Linked DNA regions of Homo sapiens: regions 1 and 2 are each reported to be linked to region 3. The links are microRNA targets in miRTarBase. Many come from high-throughput screens and were not tested one by one. Region 3 holds a microRNA gene; each other region holds the end of a gene's coding sequence.
The links. Region 3 holds the annotated microRNA hsa-miR-4764-5p (UGGAUGUGGAAGGAGUUAUCU, at 2,274-2,294, opposite strand). A microRNA usually pairs through its seed, bases 2 to 8, with sites in the 3' UTR of a target mRNA and lowers its output. Matches are read on the target gene's strand: a 7mer-m8 pairs with bases 2 to 8, a 7mer-A1 pairs with bases 2 to 7 and ends in A, and an 8mer does both.

Region 1: the mRNA of KLHL25 is a reported target of hsa-miR-4764-5p. The part of its 3' UTR that is shown has no 7-base or 8-base seed match.
Region 2: miRTarBase lists SUMO2 as a target of hsa-miR-4764-5p. Seed matches in the 3' UTR shown: 7mer-m8 at 783-789.

What each region holds. Positions count from the first base shown.
Region 1 is chr15:85,764,473-85,768,703 of GRCh38, forward strand. KLHL25 (kelch like family member 25) reads right to left here. Exons shown (of 3, transcript NM_022480.4): 2 at 3,545-4,231. The coding sequence ends at 3,569. Among named protein-coding and RNA genes, the nearest start is that of MIR1276, 4.0 kb to the right of the region's middle. RefSeq lists enhancers at 1-382, 3,314-4,088, 4,089-4,231.
Region 2 is chr17:75,164,803-75,169,033 of GRCh38, reverse strand. It overlaps SUMO2 (small ubiquitin like modifier 2), which reads left to right. Exons shown (of 4, transcript NM_006937.4): 4 at 633-3,448. The coding sequence ends at 695. Among named protein-coding and RNA genes, the nearest start is that of JPT1, 12 kb to the right of the region's middle.
Region 3 is chr22:33,434,367-33,438,597 of GRCh38, forward strand. It overlaps MIR4764 (microRNA 4764), which reads right to left and starts at 2,303; the gene lies at 2,216-2,303. All of the region lies in intron 6 of LARGE1 (LARGE xylosyl- and glucuronyltransferase 1), which reads right to left. RefSeq lists an enhancer at 3,482-4,231.

The sequences.
Region 1 (4,231 bases), not on the chromosome of region 3:
GCCCAGAACGCCTTGGGGACATGGCTCTGGGATGACAGGGTCTGGAAGTAGCTTCCCCATCAGATCTGGGACTGGCTCAGTCTTGTGTGTCCGCTTCCTCATCCCTAAATGGAGCTGATGACAGCAATCCCATTACAGACTGAGGAGGACTCCAGTGGGCACAGGGCAAGTGCCTGCTGAGGAACAGCAGTCATGGGTGGACAGGCCTTTCAGAGGGAGGGGCTAAGCAGAGACATCTAGAGGCCCTTGCAGCCCACAGCACCCCAAAACCATCAGCATCAGCATCTCCCTGTCCTCCATCGCTACCCCTTTTAAGCTGCTTCTGAAACTGGCAATCACTTGATCTCTATTCTAGTGCTATGAGTAATACAATTTCCACTCCCGTTGTCCAGATGGGGAAGCTGAGCCTCAGGGGAATCAAGTAGCCAGTCCAGGGTGAAGCAGCCAAAAAGTCACAACCAAGACACCATGCATGCTCTCCTTCCAGGGTCCCTGGGATCAGAGCAATTCCTGGGAGAGTACATGGTTCACCAGGTCCAGTTGACAGGGCAGGGCCAGGTGGGAGGGAGCCTCTGACCTGGAGGGTAGGCAGGGGGCAGCCTCTGGTCTGGAGGCTCAGACCAGAGATGGTCTCAGCTGCCTGAGGCCAGCAGCATGGGCCCCCTCACACTGCCCAGCCCGGCTGGCCTGGGGTGGGAGGGGCCTCCATTTCCCACAGGTGACATTCCCCAGGTTTCTAAATGACCTAGAGGATAGCAACAGGGAATTAATGAGGAGATGCCAGTATCCTCTTGGAATCTCACTCCTCAGGGAATCAAGAAATTTGGCAGGTCTGATTTTTCTCTAAAGACAGCAGATTAAAAAAAAAGAAGACCGGGCACGAAGGCTCACACCTGTAATCCCAGCACTTTGGAAGGCCGAGGCGGGTGGATCACCTGAGGTCTGGAGTTTGAGACCAGCCTGGCCAACACGGTGAAACCCCATCTCTACTACAAATACAAAAATTAGCTGGGCATGGTGGCAGATGCCTGTAATCCCAGCTACTCAGGAGGCTGAGGAAGGAGAATCGCTTGAACCCAGGAGGCAGAGGTTGCAGTGAGCAGAGATCGCACCATTACACTCCAGCCTGGGGGAGAACGAGACTGTCTCAAAAAAAAAAAAAAGAAGAAGAAGAAGAAGAAGAAAACAGAAAAGCTGTAAAAGAAAAAAGCAAGCCAGATGCGGTGGCACACGTCTGTAATCCCAGCTACTCAGGAGGCTGAGGAACGAGAATTCCTTGAACCTGGGAGGTGGAGGTTGCAGTGAGCAGAGATCGTACCCTGCACTCTAGCCTGGGTGACAGAGCGAGACTGTCTCAAAAAAAAAAAAAAGAAAAAGAAAAAAGAAAAATAAAAGAAAAAAGAAAACTGGTGTTCCTATTCAGGCTGGCCTCTGTGAGCCCAAACACCCTGTGTTCACCAACTTGATGCTTATGCTTGGGCCCTCCTTGCCTGCCACCATGTCCCTTTAAGGGACTCGAAGGCTTGGCTGGATCTGAGTTAGAGGCTGAGCCATCAGCTTCCATTGAGAAGCAATCCCAGCTAAGAATGACTGCCTTCACTGGGTAGAGCTTTCAGCATTTGTATCAGCAGCCGCTGGCTCACTGAGGAAATTAATGTTTAGCTCGGGCCAGCTCCTGAAAGGGTTCCTATGACCTGAAGCTGAGCCCACACGTGGGGATCACTGCCACCACCCAGCGCTGCAGGATCGTGGGAAGCGGCTGGGCTCCCTCCGGCAGGACAGCTCATCTTCCACAGTCTCGTCCTGTGCTGGAGGCAGAGTGCACCCAGGGATCTTATGCCCCTATTGCAGGGGTGAGGGGCCCAGGACAGCATGAGCCGGGAGAATGGCCAAGGGCTAGTGGCACGCACCCTGGCCTTTCCCAGGCCCTAAACACAGAGGGTGTGTTGGGCACAAAGCCCTTCTCTGGCATCTACCCCAGTACCCTGCCAGGCTGGCCGGGATACCCTCTCTCGTGGCAGGACCTCATGCCGATCCTGCCCCTATTTGCTGCGGGAAGACCCCGCCCCCAGCTCAGCTTCTCAGGAGATTAAACCAGCACCAGATGAGACACTCCTCCCGCCCGTTCCTTCCCTTCACTGCAGGGTCTGCAGGGCCTGGCTCAAACTGCTCCCAGTGTCTCTGTCCCACCATCACCTCCCACAGAGTGCCTTCCGTGTCACCTGTTTTCATAGCGATTCCACACAATGACAGTGTGGCAGCAACCCACAGACACTCGCTCTGCAGGAAGCCCTGCTCCAAGGCCCTCAAGGATGACCTCGCTTAAGCTAGACGCCTGCCGGCTTCGAGGAAGGACTTCTCCCCATCCCTTGCATGCTGGTGAGCACACAGCTGCCCCCAGGAGAAACAGGACTCAAACCAAGGCTGTCTGTTCCCACCATGCAGGCTTTGGTGTTTACAGTTAACAGTTTTTTGGAGGACTCCACCATTTAGACATGGATGTCATGCCTGGTTGGCGATCATTTTTTTTTTTTTTTTGAGACGGAGTCTCACTGTTGCCCAGGCTGGAGTACAGCGGCATGATCTTGGCTCACTGCAGCCTCTGTCTCCCAGGTTCAAGTGATCCTCCTACCTCAGCCTCCCAAGTAGCTGGGATTACAGGTGTGCACCACCATGCCTGGCTCATTTTTTGTATTTTTAGTAGGGATGGGGTTTCACTTGTTAGCCAGGATGGTCTCGATCTCCTGACCTCATGATCTGCCCACCTCGGCCTCTCAAAGTGCTGGGGTTACAGGCATGAGCCACTGTGCCCGGCCAGGACTGACTTTCACATTGCCCAGGCTGGTCTTGAATTGGGCTCAAGCCATCTGCCCACCTCAGCCCTCCTAAAGTGCTGGGATTATAGGCATGAGCCACCATGCCCGGGCCTGGTTGGCAATCTTCATACATATCATCACTCATCAGTGCCAGGAGAGTAACACTGTCCTGACTCCATGGGGAGGGGGCCATTCTCCTGGACTCTGCCTTAGTACATGTCTCTTCCCTTGGCTTATCTTAATCTGTATCTTTCCCCTATAATAAACTGTAACTGTGAGCATAACAGCCTTCAGCGACTTCTATAAGTCTTTCTGGCAAAATTGACCGAGGGTGGTTTGGGAGGCCCCCTTTGTTGCACCTGGTGTCAAAAGTAAGAGCAGGCTTGTGTGGAGACTGCACCCTCAGACTCTGCAGGTTGACCTATGCTCCACACAGCACTGTCAAAAGGTCCCTGGGTGATTCTGAAGTATAACCATGTTTGGGAACCACCATGTTGGTCTAACCATGGTTACTGTCCCCATTTTGCAGACTGGTTCAATAATTTGCTCCAGGTTAACTGCAAATAGAAGGCAGAGCCAGGATTTGACTCCAGAGCACACCAGCCACCTGCTGCCCACCCAGACTTCCCTGGAAGACACGGTGACCTTCACCCAGTGGGAAGAGGTGGGACTGCATTCCCCCATGACCTTTCCGGACCCAGAGTGGCCGTGGGCTGCCAGGGACTCACCTGGCTGGGCTCAGCAGGTGCTCCTCACGCGGGCAGGTGCTTCCAGGTGCTGACAAAGGCCGTGGGGATAAGTGAGTAGGGCACTGTGGTGATGCAGTTCCATGTATCTGAAGTGGGGTCATAGCAGTCCAGAGTCTTACACCTCTGGGTCCCAAAGTAGCCCCCGACCACATAGAGCTTGTTGCCGGAAGCCAGGGCATGGCAGGACATGCGCTTGGCAGTCATGTCCCCAATCCGCGTCCACTGGTTGGTCTCACAGTCAAAGCGGTAGGCCGAGGCGGCTGTGAATTCCGTGTCACCTCCCATGATGAAGATCTGGCTGCCCAGGACGGCAGCGGCTGTGTACCGCCAAGGCTGGGGGCACTCGGCCTTGATCGTCCACCTGTTCTCCGAGGGGTCATAGCACTGGACCTTGGACACCATGTCCCGGTGGATGCTGGTTCCTCCGAAAACAAAGAGCTTCAGCTTGGCACTCACCACTGCGGCATTGCTGACGCCATCCCGCAAGGGGGCCACCATCATCCACTTGTTGGCCCCAGGGTCGTATTTCTCCACTTGTTTCAGGGAGACAGAAGGCGAGGCCGGGAAGACCCCTGCCAGGGATGTGTGTCCCCCCACCACATAGAGGCAGTTCTCCAGCTCAGCTGAGCCATGGCCAAAGCGGGCAATCAGCATGGGCGCCGCCTT
Region 2 (4,231 bases), not on the chromosome of region 3:
TTGCCCAGGTGGTCTCGGTCTCTTGGGCTCAAGCAATCCTCCAATGTTGGCCTCCAGTAGTACTGGGATTACAGGCATGAGCCACCGCACCTGGCTAATATTCTGCTTTTTACTCAAAAACTAAGTTTTGGCTGGGCGCAGTGGCTCACACCTGTAATCCCAGCACTTTGGGAGGCCGAGGCAGGCAGATCACTTGAGCTCAGGAGTTTGAGACCAGCCTGGCCAACATGACGAAACCCCATCTCTACTAAAAATACAAAAAAATTAGCTGGGCATGGTGGCGGATGCCTGTAATCTCAGCTACTTGGGAGACTGAGGCAGGAGAATTGCTTGAACCTGAGGGGTGGACGTTGCAGTGAGCTGAGATCACGCCACTGCAGTCCAGCCTGGGTGACAGAAATCCTGTCTCAAAAAAAAAACAAAAAAGTTTTATCTAATAGTCATAAAAAAGGAAGCCAAGTGAAAAATTACTTAAACCAAGTGTGTTGATACATTAAGCTATGAGACATCTAAAATAATGAAACTTGGAACTTAGTGGAACATGTACATGTTTTCAGCATACTTAAACCCAAAAATCATTAATTTTCAGAACTTAATCAGTGCTTTTACATTTGTTTTTTCTTTTATGCTAGTTGGAAATGGAGGATGAAGATACAATTGATGTGTTCCAACAGCAGACGGGAGGTGTCTACTGAAAAGGGAACCTGCTTCTTTACTCCAGAACTCTGTTCTTTAAAGACCAAGATTACATTCTCAATTAGAAAACTGCAATTTGGTTCCACCACATCCTGACTACTACCGTATAGTTTTCTCTATTCTTTCATTTCCCCCTTCCCCATTCCTTTATTGTACATAAAGTAACTGGTATATGTGCACAAGCATATTGCATTTTTTTTTTTTTTAACTAAACAGCCAATGGTATGTTTTGATTGACATCAAGTGGAGACGGGATGGGGAAAAATACTGATTCTGTGAAAATACCCCCTTTCTCCATTAGTGGCATGCTCATTCAGCTCTTATCTTTATATTCCAGTAAGTTATTTTGCTCTCACTGTTTTAACAAAAAAAAAAAACAACAACATAAAAATCCTTGCATACCTTGTTCAATTGGAGAATTTTAATGTTTTTCATTTATCATTGTAAAACCAAGGACAATTTTATAACTTTTTTGTACGTAGCTGTTACATGTAGGGCAATCTGTCTTTAAGTAGGGATAAATTACTCTAAAACAAAAAAGAATCCTAGATAGTTTTCCCTTCAAGTCAAGCGTCTTGTTGTTTAAATAAACTTCTTGTTTAAAATGAGCTGTTTTCTTTATTCTGAGAAATATTAAATAGAAAATTGAGGCTTAGAAAAAACATAAATAGGCCTGCTTAGAAGTAACATTTCAAGAAGGAAATAAAGCTACTTGGTGTTTCTGACAGACTGATACTGATGCCAAACAAAGAATAACAGTTTTATAAATATCACCTTGTTCCAAAAGTTTCTCTAGGTCCCATGTTAATATGCAAGTATACTAGCAGAAAAATTGGGCCATAGTATCGTGGATTTCCAGGTATTTTCTGTATATTAAGTGAGGCACGGAGCATAGGGTATAGGGTAGCACATGTGGCAAGGAAAAAGTTCTGATTTTGCCTTTGTTGCTGATAAAACACTGAACCATTCTAGCCTGCACTTATCATAAGTAAATACTCCCTAACCTAAAATAAAGTTTTCGTTCCTTATTCAAGGATTTTTTTTTTGAGACGGAGTTTTCCTCTTGTTGCCCAGGCTGGAGTGTAGTGGTGCAATTTCAGCTCACTGCAACCTCAGCCTCCTGAGTAGCTGGGGGGTCATAGGTGCATGCCACCACGCCCAGCTAATTTTTTTTCTATTTTTAGTCGAGACAGGGTTTTATCACGTATGCCAGGCTGGTCTCGAACTCCTGACCTTAGGTGATCCACCCGCCTCAGCCTCCCAAAGTGCAGGGATTACGGCATGAGCCACCACGCCTGGCCTATTCAAGAATATTGAGGGACAGAAAATATCTATATATATCCATCCTCAGAACCTTAAATATACAGGTCACTACAGTCTTTATTATTTTAATTTTTGTTTCTTAGGGTTTCTTTTGGTGGTGGTTTTTTGAGATGGAGCATCATTCCGTCTCCCAGGCTGTAGTGCAGTGGCACAATCTTGGCTCACTGCAAGCTCCGCCTCCCGGGTTCACGCCATTCTCCTGCCTCAGCCTCCCGTCTTAGGTCTTTTTGAAAGAGGTTATGCCTCTGTTGCCTAGTCTGGAGTGGTGCAATGGTGTGATCTTGGCTCACTGCAACCTCCACCTCCAGGTCTTAAGAGATCCTCCCTGCTCAGCCTCGTGAGTAGCTAGAACCGCAGGTGCATGCCACCACAGCTAATTCTTGTATTTTTTATAGAGAGTGTTTCGCCATATTGTCCAGGCCGGGCTCAAACCCCTGATCTTAAGTGATCTATCTGCCTTAGCCTCCCAATGTGCTGGGTTTACAGGCGTGAGCCACTATGCCCAGCCCCTTTTTAATTTTTTAAAAATGTTTATTTTTGAGATGGAGTTTCGCTCTTGTTGCCCCAACTGGAGACCAATGACATGATCTCAGCTCACTGCAACCTCCGCCTCCCGGGTTCAACTGATTCTCCTCCCTCAGCCTCCGGAAAAGCTGGGATTACAAGCATCTACCATCATACCTGGCTAATTCTGTATTTTTAGTAGAGAAGGGGTTTCTCTATGTTGGTCAGGCTGGTCTCCACCTCCCGACCTCAGGTGATCTGCCTGCCTTGGCCTCCCAAAGTGCTGAGATTACAGGCTTGAGCCACTGTGCCCGGCCAAATTTTTATTATTTTTAAATTAGAGGTGGGGTCTCACCATGTTGACCAGTTTGGTCTCGAACTTCTGGCCTCAGTCCCTTGTCTTGGCCTCCCAAAGTGTTGGGGTTTCAGGTGTTAGACCCCATGCCCAACCACTACAGTTTTTGTTTTTGTTTTTGTTTTTTTTTCAGACGGAGTCTTGCTCTGTCGCCCAGGCTGGAGTGCAGTGGCGCAATCTTGGCTCACGGCAAGCTCCACCTCCCGGGTTCACGCCATTCTCCTGCCTCAGCCTCCCCAGTAGCTGGGACTAAAGGTGCCCGCCACCATGCCCGGCTAATTTTTTTGTATTTTTAGTAGAGACAGGGCTTCACCATGTTAGCCAGGCTGGTCTCAAACTCCTGACCTCAGTTCATCCACCCGCCTTGGCCTTCCAAAGTGCTGGGATTACAGGCATGATCCACTGCGCCCGGCCTCACTGCCATTTTATAGATGAGAAAGCCAAGTTCCAGAAAAGTTGTGAAATAGACGGTGACTATAAAACTGGGACTAGAGATAGTATCCTAATGCTTGTTGATTGTTTTTGTCCATACTGATTGTCAACCTACCAATATAATCTACCATCAAGTCACCATGTAGTATTATGTGTTATTTCTCTTAATCTGCTGTACCTTTGTTTTTTGTTTTTTTGAGACGGAGTCTTGCTCTGTTGCCCAGGCTGGAGTGCAGTAGCGCGATCTCGGCTCACTGCAAGCTGCCTCCCGAGTTCACGCCATTCTCCTGCCTCAGCCTCCTGAGTAGCTGGGAGTACAGGCACCCACCACCATGCCCGGCTAATTTTTTGTATTTTTAGTAGAGACGGGGTTTCACCGTGTTAGCCAGGATGGTCTCGATCTCCTGACCTCATGAGCTGCCCGCCTCAGCCTCCCAAAGTGGTGGGATTACAGGCGTGAGTCACCGCGCCCGGCTGCTGTACCTTTGTTTTGATACACTCTTTACATTCCCTGTTTCTATAGCAAATGAGCATTGCCAGTGACAACAGGAATGCAGTAGATTTTTCTTTATGTTTGTATATGTATGAATTTTACTCTTGAATCAGCTAGACTAATTTTCCTATATGTACAGTGCCACCAGCTTGTTTTTTTAAAATTTGTGGGGTTTTTTTGTTTGTTTGGTTTTGGAGACAGAGCCTCCCAAGTAGCTGGAATTACAGGCGCCCACCACTATGCCTGGCTGATTTTTTTGTATTTGTAGTAGAGACGGGGTTTCACTGTGTTGGCCAGGCTGGTCTCAAACTCCTGACCTCAGGTGATGCGCCTACCTTGGCCTCCCAAAGTGCTAGGATTACAGGCGGGAGCCACCGCGCCCTGTTTATTTTACTTTTTTTTTTGAGATGGAGTCTCACTCTGTTGCC
Region 3 (4,231 bases):
CTGGGCTCACTGCAACCTCCGCCTCCCGGGTTCAAGTAACTCCCCTGCCTCAGCCTCCCGAGTAGCTGGGACTACAGGCACACACCACCACACCCAGTTAATTTTGTGTATTTTAGTAGAGACGGGGTTTCACCGTGTTGGCCAGGATGGTCTCGATCTCCTGACCTTGTGATCCGCCTGCCTCGGCCTCCCAAAGTGCTGGGATTACAAGCGTGAGCCACTGCGCCCAGCCTGGGAAGGATCTTTTATTGAATTTAGGGGGTCCATCTAAATTTCAGGTAAGGTCATCTTCAGATATCTGAAAGGCCAAATTTTATATGGTGGCATCCCATACATTTTATTTTGCCTGTTTACTTCTTCAGACAAATACTCTACGAGCTACACTTTATTCCTGCCAAACAAAAATATTTTGTTGCCTGTGGTCTAATTTCTACCTTGCTCATATAGCTCTCCCTTGGCAGGCATTGCCCTTGCCCCCCCTGCCAATCCCCACCCACAATCCTTTCAAGGTCCATCTCCAGCATGAAGCCTTTTATGAATAAGCCCAAGTCTGAACTATTACTTTATCTTCATTCCCATATTAGATGGAAGACATCACTATTTAGTACTTCCTACTGTTTTTTGTTTGTTTGTTTGCTTTGTTTTGTTTTTTGAGATGGAGTCTTGCTCTGTCGCCCAGGCTGGAGTGCAAATGGCGCCATCTCGGCTCACTGCAACCTTCGCCTCCCGAGTTAAAGCGATTCTCCTGCCTCAGCCTCCTGAGTAGCTGGGATTACAGACACCTGCCACCATGTCTGGCTAATTTTTGTATTTTTAGCAGAGACAGGGTTTCGCCATGTTGACCAGGCTGATCTCGAACTCCTAACCTCAGGCGATCCTCCCACCGCAGCCTCCCAAAGTGCTAGGATTACAGGCGTGAGCCACCATGCCTGGCTCCTACGGGTATTTTGCCAGCAGCTGACTTACACTCCATAAAAGATGAAGTTGGCAATATTCAGGCACCCACAGACCTCATTTATAAATAACCACTTCCTGCATTATTCCAAGGGCAAGATACTACAAGGTGTAGTACTGAACACACAGTAGGTGCTTAATAAATGTCTGCTAAATAAATGACATCTAGTGGGTTAACCTTCCTGATCGGGTGTGTGTTAGTGTCCTCATAAATCATTTCACCCTCTCTGTAGTCACCAATATTAACAGACCTTCCACCCAGCTCTGGGAACTCAGGCACCCGCTCCCCTGTATGGAAAACTGCAAAGATGGGGAGGCAGCACCCACTTGGGGTGCTCTACATAAGGCTTAAACTCAAGGTCTTCATCTCCAGAGAAGGAATGATTTTCATGGTTAACCTAAAGTCACGTTATCCCAAAGAATAATATCCAAATTGCTCTTCATTCAGTTTGTACCTGGGCTGCATTGCTTTTGATAGTACCACTTAACCCTCTCAGGCACGCCAATCCTCTTAAAAAATTCCTTAATTAGCAACATGATAGTTAGAACTTTAATATCCATTGGTGAGAAAAAAACAGAATAATCAGCAGCTACTGAGACTTCATTTTGCTTTTTAAAAGAAATTCATTAGCTGCCATATCAATGATCAAAACAGTAGTAAGGGTAAGCGATGTTGCTTAGCCTCTCAACGGTGTTGAGTTTTGCTTTCAGGCTGTGCCTTCCCAGCTTCTGTGTGAAGAGGGAACCATGAACATCAATATAGTTGGAGATAAAGAGTGTGGACTGAACTCAGGCTGCCTGGTTCCGGTTCCTAGCCCTGCCACCTTCTAGCTGCGTAGCCGTGAAAAAAATTGCTTAACCTATCTCTGCCTTGGTATCTAACTCTTACAGCTGCTGTGACTTCACATGCTGGAATGACTTCATACATGTTAAGTTCTTAGAACAGAAGCTGGAACTCTAAGCACTGTACATATGATAGTCACTGCCTATCCTAACCCGAAAGCCCCTGATAGACAGCAAGCTTATCCATGAGGTTTTCTTTGGAGGTCATCCAGCACAACCATTAGGCCATTCTCGAACTCTGCCTCTCTAAGTGTGGTCTGAGGACTATCTGTTTCAGAAACCCCTGAGATTCTTGCTAAAAGCACAGGCTCCTGGGCTTCATTCAACCTAGAAGTTAGTTATTAGTGGGAGGATGCTTTCCCCTACTTCTCCGGTTTCTAGAAGGAGGGATTTCTTGACACCTTGAGCCGATCTTTTCTCTTCCCCATGGGTGTGAAAGGAGTTAACTGACTGGTGACAGTTATCTGACTGGTGACAGATAACTCCTTCCACATCCATGGGGAAGAGAAAGGTGAGTTTCAGAGGCAACCAAGTTGATGTGGCCTAGCCTCTTCCTCTGTCCCTTCTTCCAGGAGCCAGCATGCCAACAGATAGCCTGCATCGAATCTGTTCTTTCACGCTGTTAAATTTTATAGAGCAGACCTCCTCTGTGAGGCTGTGGTTGTCTAGTACTTCTTGGGATAGCTGAGCAATTCCAACTCTGGGTTTTGGTGCTAGGAAGAGCCATTGTAGATACTGAAGGACTCTAAAGTTGAGTCCTCCAATTTCACCTTTATCAGTAAAATAAGGTGACATCTGGCTCTCCCTCCTTTATCTCTAAGTTGGTTCAATATTGGCAGGGGCGGGGGTGGTGCATATGGGGAAATAATATATTAATTCCCTCACTCCACAATATTTCTGCATAAGAATTCTGGCCACGGGGTCTAGTAATTTGCATTGAAATAAACCAACTCCCCAGGTAATTCAGATGCACATTAAAGTTTGAGAATTACTGATTGGAGTTTGGAAGCTCCGTTACTGCTTTAGTCAAGGGTAAATTTCACCTGCAGGGTGACTGGCACATAATAAACTCACATGGTGTCTACATTCACCTCATAAACCAGTAGAATTCATTGGTAGTCTCCAATGCCATACTTCCTGAGTACAGTAAAGTGGTGAAGAAAATGAACACCAGAGCCAGACGCCTGGGCTCAAATCCTGGCTCTTCCACTTACTAGCTATGTGACCCTGGACAAGGTACTTAGCCTCTCTGTGCTTGCTTCTTCATTCACTTGTAAAATAGAGATAGTAAGTAACATACCTAATTTTTTTTTTCCTCTAAGCACAAGTTAATTTGTGAAAATGATGCTGTGTTTTGTGCTTATTCAAACATTACCACTAAAAGCGTCGATGAAATAGTAAAGCGTTCAGTAAGCATTTGCTCTTATGGAAGCACCCAGAACTCCCTGGTCCTACACTCTGCTCCATCTGCCTGGACCTCCAGCTCAGCCATCTCCTCCTGTCCTTAGCTGACATGGCCCTTAGTTTGCTGAGACGTTGGTTCAGCTTAGTATCGATTGAGGGTTTGAGTTGTGTCAGACACCACACAAAATACTAAGGAATGAAAGACAAAAAAAACATAGTTCTTGCCCTGGGGGCAGCTAGAAGAGGAGACAGATAAACAATTTTGAAGCAGCATGATATTAGCAGTGACAGGGCGATATTAGCAAGATGGGGGAATAATAAGTAGGGAGTAATTGATTCTGTGGGGGTAAGTGGGTGATACCTGCTAGACAAGTTGGATGTCTCCCTTCCCACCGAGTCACCTACCACATCCCTTCCAGCACTGCAGCCAGGCCTCCCCAAAAGCTTTTCCAATAAGGGTTCTGTCGGGTAACACCCTTCTAGGAGAGAAGTCCCCTCTGCTACCAGGTGACAGCATGGATGATACAGGTGATCTGTGACAGTTCCAGCAATCCCAGCCCATCATCCAGGTGGCATCTAAATCCTGGTCTCCAGAGGCCCAAGTCTACAGCTGTAACCTTGATGGTGCAAACACATCTTCAGCTTGCCATCGTGTGAAGAGGTAAAATCCCAGGGGATTCCTTGGGGGAGATGACACAGGTGGCTACAGGGTGCTGGCTTGCTCAGCATTCTGCACTGCCTGTCTCGTCTTCTTGGGAGTTATTGTAATAAAACACTGTGACTCACAGAAAACGCTTTGTCATTGTTTTCCAAGCTGGGCCTGTGGTTATGATTAAGTGCGCTGTTCTCCATCTTCCTTAGTCTAGGCACAAGTTAACTTATGAAAATGAAGCTGTCTTCTTTGCTTATTCATACATCACTACTAACAGTCAGACAAGAGCGAACAAGCTTGCTTTTCTGCTGGGGCCCTGGTGTTGGTGTCACCAGCCAGCAGATGGATGGCTCTACGCAGGGAACTCTCCTCTCTTCT